Regions from separate parts of the Homo sapiens genome. Here region 2 is linked to region 1. Evidence: fine-mapped expression QTL. A gene starts in region 1. The other region holds a variant in brackets. All regions are shown on one strand. Distances are between the middles of the regions. Region 1 holds the start of CD38 (CD38 molecule). Region 2 overlaps LOC107986186 (a long non-coding RNA gene).

Region 1 (2,912 bases):
GCTCGGAGAGGCGAGGGAGGTCTATTTGCTCGTTTCCTCGGATTGCTTAAATGCGGGATTTTGCTATCCCAAAGCACAGAGTGTAAAGTAGCAGCTCCCCCTGCCTGCCTTCCCGGCTTCTTCTGTTTTACAAGCAACGATAATTTCCCGGTGAAAGCGAGGCCTGGGAATCAAATCCAAAAAGTGGTTGTTCCCTTTAGGAGAGGTTAGTAGCTGGAAAGGAGCATGAGAAAACTGGAAGGTCCCATAGACTAATGTGTTTTTTTTCCAAGGTTTGTACAGATTCACCGAGTTGCTGCGCCTTATCATCTAAGTAATGTCTCGGTTTTAGAAGTTGACATTGTTTTGTTAATTACTTCTCTGGTCACATGCATTTCAGGCCGCGCAAAAAGAATCGGAGTGCTGCTTTATATAAATGAATAAAACTAAGTTCCGTGGTTTGGCCCTTCTACACCCTCCTCCCCTACCACAGGCTTTGCAAACCACTTAAGTGTCCTCTGTAACCGTCCGGGGGCACTTTCGGGTCAGAGACAGCGGGCGGAAACCGCAGAAAAAGTTGAAAATGTCAGCGACACCCTGCATCTGCGAGTTCTATTCCGTCCCTGAAGCGGTGAAGCGGGCTGAGCGCGCCGAGGGTGGGCTGCAGCCCGGCGAGGGGCTGGGCTCAGGGCACCTTGCCCAGAAGGCGGGCATCGGTGCCAAGTGTTCACCGGCTACGCAGCAGAGCCACCGAGCAGCGCCCCCCCCCGCCTCCCGCGGGCACGCTCGGTGCCAAGGCCAGCTGCTCCTGAAAGCGGCCCGCGGAGCCCCGAGCCCGGGACTCCCTACTCAGCACCACCCGGCGGGCTCTCGGCTGACCCGCCACGGAAGATGCCCGGTTCCGGGCGATCCGGGCGGCTTCCCTGCGCGCGGGGCCCTGCTGTCCCCGCAGTGCCCACCGGTGCGCCTTAGTCGCCAACCCACCTCATCTCAGGATGAATTTCAGTGTACTTGACGCATCGCGCCAGGACGGTCTCGGGAAAGCGCTTGGTGGTGCCCGGACCGCTCCACTGCTGGCGCCACCTCGGGACGACCACCGCGAGCACCACGACGAGGATCAGGACCAGGATACTGACGCCAAGACAGAGTTGGGCTCTCCTAGAGAGCCGGCAGCAGGGTTTGTCCCCGGACACCGGGCTGAACTCGCAGTTGGCCATAGGGCTCCAGGCGGGGTTGGCTGGGCGAAGATGAGGCCGGCAGGAGGCTAGGCAGCAAGAGAGAGGCTGGCTGGGTTCTGAAACTGCACCTCCCCTTCTGTTTCACTTGCCTTTTCTCTGTTTCCCTTCCCACCCCCAACCCCTTGCCTCAGAGTTCCGTGGCTGGTTACACCAATAAGAGTTTAAAAGACCAACAACTATAGGCTCCTGTGCAGTGACCCACCCACTCCACCTCCAGGGAGAAACAGCCACCTTAATCCTCTGCAGGTGTCCTAAGGGGGCAGACAGTACATCCTTATACTCCCTCCGCTAACTCCCTTCATCAACCGGGCACTTTACACCTGAGCCACATTTGCTTCCTGGAAAGCATGAGGGTGGGCTGCCTGCTTCTATACGTGTGTGCACACAATGCCCTCTGCCTGGAAAAGGATGTCCTACCTCTCTTTCTTAACTCTGACAAATGCCTGGTCAACCACCTTTAAAGACTCAACTTAAGTCTGACTCCTTCTCTCAAGAGGCATCAGTGGCTAAGCTCTGGGTTCAAATTTAGTTCTTGCTGGATGACATGGGGCAAGTTACTTAACCTCTCTGTACTTCAGATGTAAAGCCGGGATAGTAGCAGTACCTACTTCATGGGATTGTTACGAGGATTAAGTGAGTTAATATCTACAACGTGTTTAGCACAATACCTGGCACATGGTAATCACCCAGTAAATGTAAGTTGTTACTACCAGCTCTAGGAGCTGCTCAGAGATGCAATTTTATAGTCCATGGAATGTGTTTGAAGCAGGGTCTGGCACACAGTAATAATACTGCACTCTATGCGGGAGTTTAATAAATAATAAAGTGGCTTTTCTTGCCTCTTCTTTATTAAGAGAACATCTGTGACATTCAAGCAGAGACCTAAGTAATGTGAGCGATCAAGTCACCCAACTCCCTTGGGGCAAACATTTCCCAAGCAGAGGAAATGGCAGGTGCAAAGACTCTGAGGCAGAAAAGCTCTTGGCCTGTTCCAGAGCAGCAAGGAGGCCAATTGTAGTTAGGCTAGAGGGTTGAGGGAAACAGAACAGAAGTTCGGAAAGTAGCAGGAGACCAGATCACCCATAGCTCTGTAAGACAGGATGACTTTTTGGACTGTGTGTTTTATTTATTTTTTATCTTTTTTATTTTGTTTTAAGTTCTGGGATACATGTACAGGACGTGCAGAGTTGTTACATAGGTAAATGTGTGCCATGGTGGTTTGCTGCACCTATCAATCCATTGCTTAGGTATTAAGCCCCTCATGTTTTAGCTATTCTTTCTGATGCTCTCCCTCCCTCCACTCTCCCCAACAGGCCCCAGTGTGTGTTGTTCCCCTCCCTGTGTTCATTGTTCAGCTCCCACTTATAAGTGAGAACATGCAGTGCTTGGTTTTCTGTTCCTGTGTTAGTTTGCTGAGGATAATGGCTTCCAGCTCCATCCATGTCCCTGCAAAGGACATGATCTCGTTCCTTTTTGTGGCTGCACAGTATTCCCTGGTGTATATGTACCACATTGTCTTTATCCAGTCTGTCATTGATGGGCATTTGGGTTGATTCCATGTCATTGCTATTGTGAATAGTGCTACAATGAACATATGCATGCATGTATCTTTATAACAGAATGATTTATATTCCTTTGGGTATATACCCAGTAATGAGATTGCTGGGTCAAATGGTATTTCTGGTTCTAGATCTT
Region 2 (2,912 bases), 23 kb after region 1:
GACAGCTCAGTTTTACTGCATAATCTGTTTTCAAGACCCTTTAAAAGACCAGATTGTCTAGTACTTTTCTTTTATGAGAAGAGCTTCCCCCAACCCACCCTGCAGTCTTTTAGCAAAAACACCAGAAAGTCGGTTTTTCCCCCTTGTTTTGTTGTTGTTTTTGTTGTTCATGGTGGTGTGTTTTGTTTGTTTCAGTTTTATTTTTTCAAATTCCATGGTTATTTTCAAAATGAAGATCTAGCTTACAGTGTAATTTTTAAGTTTATGTTTATGTTGCAGAGACTGGGAGAACTGTTTAGTCACCACCTTGAGAACCTTAACATCATCTATCAGTTTACATGGTACTTGCCCTGTGGAGGAACTCAGAGCTCTCAGATTGTTTTACCTTTATTCCCTGGAAGCTTTGGACTATTGGAATATAAGCTGGAATAAGAAACTCATTGATTTGAAATTGGAGTGAAGTGATTATCTGTCTAATAACCCAATGGTTAAGTTTTTTTTTTCAAATAGGGTTTTCAGAGTACACAAATGAGCACACACTCACACACTCACAGATGCATAAACACTCTAAGACCTTCATCACTGGTGGTAACCACCACTCTACATTGACTGAAGGTGACATCTGGACTCAGCATTTCTTTTTTCTTTGGGGCTTTTCACCCATAAATAATATGCAGTTGTTCAATTCATTGCTAAACTACAGAGATCCAGTGAAGAATGAATACATTAATATTGCAAATGCATTTACTCTTTGACTCACTGACCCCATTTCTAGGAATTCAACCTACAAATATCTCTGCCCACATGAAAGATAATAAATATACCAGATTAGTCATTGCAGCATTGTTTATAAGAGAAACTGGCGCCAGGCACGGTGGCTCATGCCTGTAATCCCAGAACTTTGGGAGGCCAAGGCGGGCGGATCAAGAGGTCAGGAGTTCAAGACCAGCCAGACAAACATGGTGAAACCCCATCTCTACTAAAAATACAAAAATTAGCCAGGCGTGGTGGTGCACACCTGTAATCCCAGCTACTGAAGAGGCCGAGGCAGGAGAATCACTTGAACCTGGGAGGCGGAGGTTGCAGTGAGCTGAGATTGCACTACTGCACTCCAGCCTGGGCGACAGAGTGAGACTCCATCTCAAAAAAATAAAAAAATAAAAAAAAGAGAAACTGATTGCAAACAACCTAAATGATGTTCCTAACGGGGTGGGTTAAATAAATTACAAAACATCTCTCCCATGGAATATTATGCAGCTGTAAAAAATAAAGTGAGGGATCTCTGTATGTATTGATACAGAATAATCTCCAGGATGTACTATTAAGGAGTACAAAGTATTTTGTGTTTAATGCTTCCTTTTGTGTAAGAAAAGGTAGGGAGTAATAACATGTATTTGTATGTGCTTGTGCAAAGAAACCCTAGACAGATCTACATGAACTTTAAACAAGTGGTCATCCGAATTAGAGGTGTGGGACCAGAACAGGGGACAGGAGTGGGAATGAGATTTTTTCATAGTGTTTTATTTTTAAGCCATGTGTATATACTACCTTTTCAGAAATAACATAAAAATCACCAAATGTAAACTAAAACAAATCTACGTACTTAAATTACAAAAATGGAC[C/T]GCTGGGAAAGAGCCCGTTTTTTCCATCTTTTCAGGCATGCTTATCAAATACTTCATCAGTTGGAAATTCAACAAAATAAAGTATGTGTGCAGCTACATCTGACGTTGATTCTTTATCTCATTCAAAACCACACAGTGCTGACAGCAACATCCTTCCTCTCAGCATTCATGCTTCTGCTACCACCCAGGGGCACTGAGTTCACAGCCAGCTCACAGAAGGTAAGAAACTGCACACAACCCTTAGAGAGGAGACAATCTTAGACATGTGCATGCTTCAGAGAACATCTGGAAATTCTGCAATGTTCCTGAACTCAACATACCCCTGTTTCCTTGGGTTCTTTTAGGCCAGTTTTCACAATGGGGTCACACTAATCCTCACAACCTCTACTTTAGCGACTCATGAAGCCTCTATTGTTCTGCAGAACACCATCCCCTTTCAAAGAGCCTCCCTCTCAATATTTCCGGGGGTCTTCGTGGGGATTATCACATCTGCACTTGAAAAAGCTGCCCACAGTCCCACAGGCCTCCATCGTGGTTTTCCTCTCTTTTCAATCTCCACTGATGATACACACGAAGAAGCTGTGGCCTCACACCCCCCCACTTGGCCTTCCAGATCTTCCAGCCTCTCCCTTTGGCTCTCTGCCCTGGATCCAGCCCCAGGAGGCTCTCCCAAAGGAAGGAAGGTGACTGAGGTCCGGTTATCCATTCCCTCAGCTGGCTTCCTCCCTGCAGGGTTGCCTCAGGCCACTGGGTTCCTTGACAGAGGCCACTGCTCTTCTCCAGATGACCTCTCCATGGGACTCTCTCCTTCCGGATTCCCATGACCTCCCTGTTGCCTCACTCTGTGAGGCCTTGGTGCATCTCTGTACACATCAATGGTTTGCAGATAGTCCCTATTAAACCTCCTCCGATTTTCCTGATTTGAGTGTGCTATCTGTGTGTCTGGATGGGCCCTGACCGATTTGGACTCTCCCTGCCTGCAAGGCAGTTTATGTATGTCCCATCATTGCCTTTGGTGGGCACCATCTCTGCGAACCTCCAGCTGTGCCATGGCTGGGCCACACTTTGAGAGCTGGGTCCTATCCCAATACTGTTTGTGGCTCTGTGTCTCGTAACATTCTTAAAGACCCTACTCTTTCTCCTTAGGGCTCACCTAATGGAGAGGGATGCTACTAATAATTATGCAAGGACAAAGGACACCCACTGGCGCGATCGTGAGCCATTCAGGATGTTTGGTTTCTACATGTATACACAGGAGCACACACATACATAAAAAATCTCTGCTACAGA

Evidence for each region. PIP is the estimated chance that this variant, and not a neighbour inherited with it, causes the effect.
Region 2: its variant is fine-mapped to the expression of CD38 in whole blood (TOPMed, PIP 0.91).

Annotation. Positions count from the first base shown.
Region 1 is chr4:15,776,699-15,779,610 of GRCh38, reverse strand. CD38 (CD38 molecule) reads right to left here and starts at 1,283. Exons shown (of 8, transcript NM_001775.4): 1 at 964-1,283. The coding sequence starts at 1,196. RefSeq lists silencers at 525-574, 765-814 and enhancers at 945-1,444, 856-1,498.
Region 2 is chr4:15,753,388-15,756,299 of GRCh38, reverse strand. It overlaps LOC107986186 (a long non-coding RNA gene), which reads left to right. Exons shown (of 2, transcript XR_001741393.2): 2 at 1,759-2,229. It also overlaps a transcript of BST1 not described here. Among named protein-coding and RNA genes, the nearest start is that of CD38, 23 kb to the left of the region's middle. The variant C/T (reference allele first, on the strand shown) is at 1,623.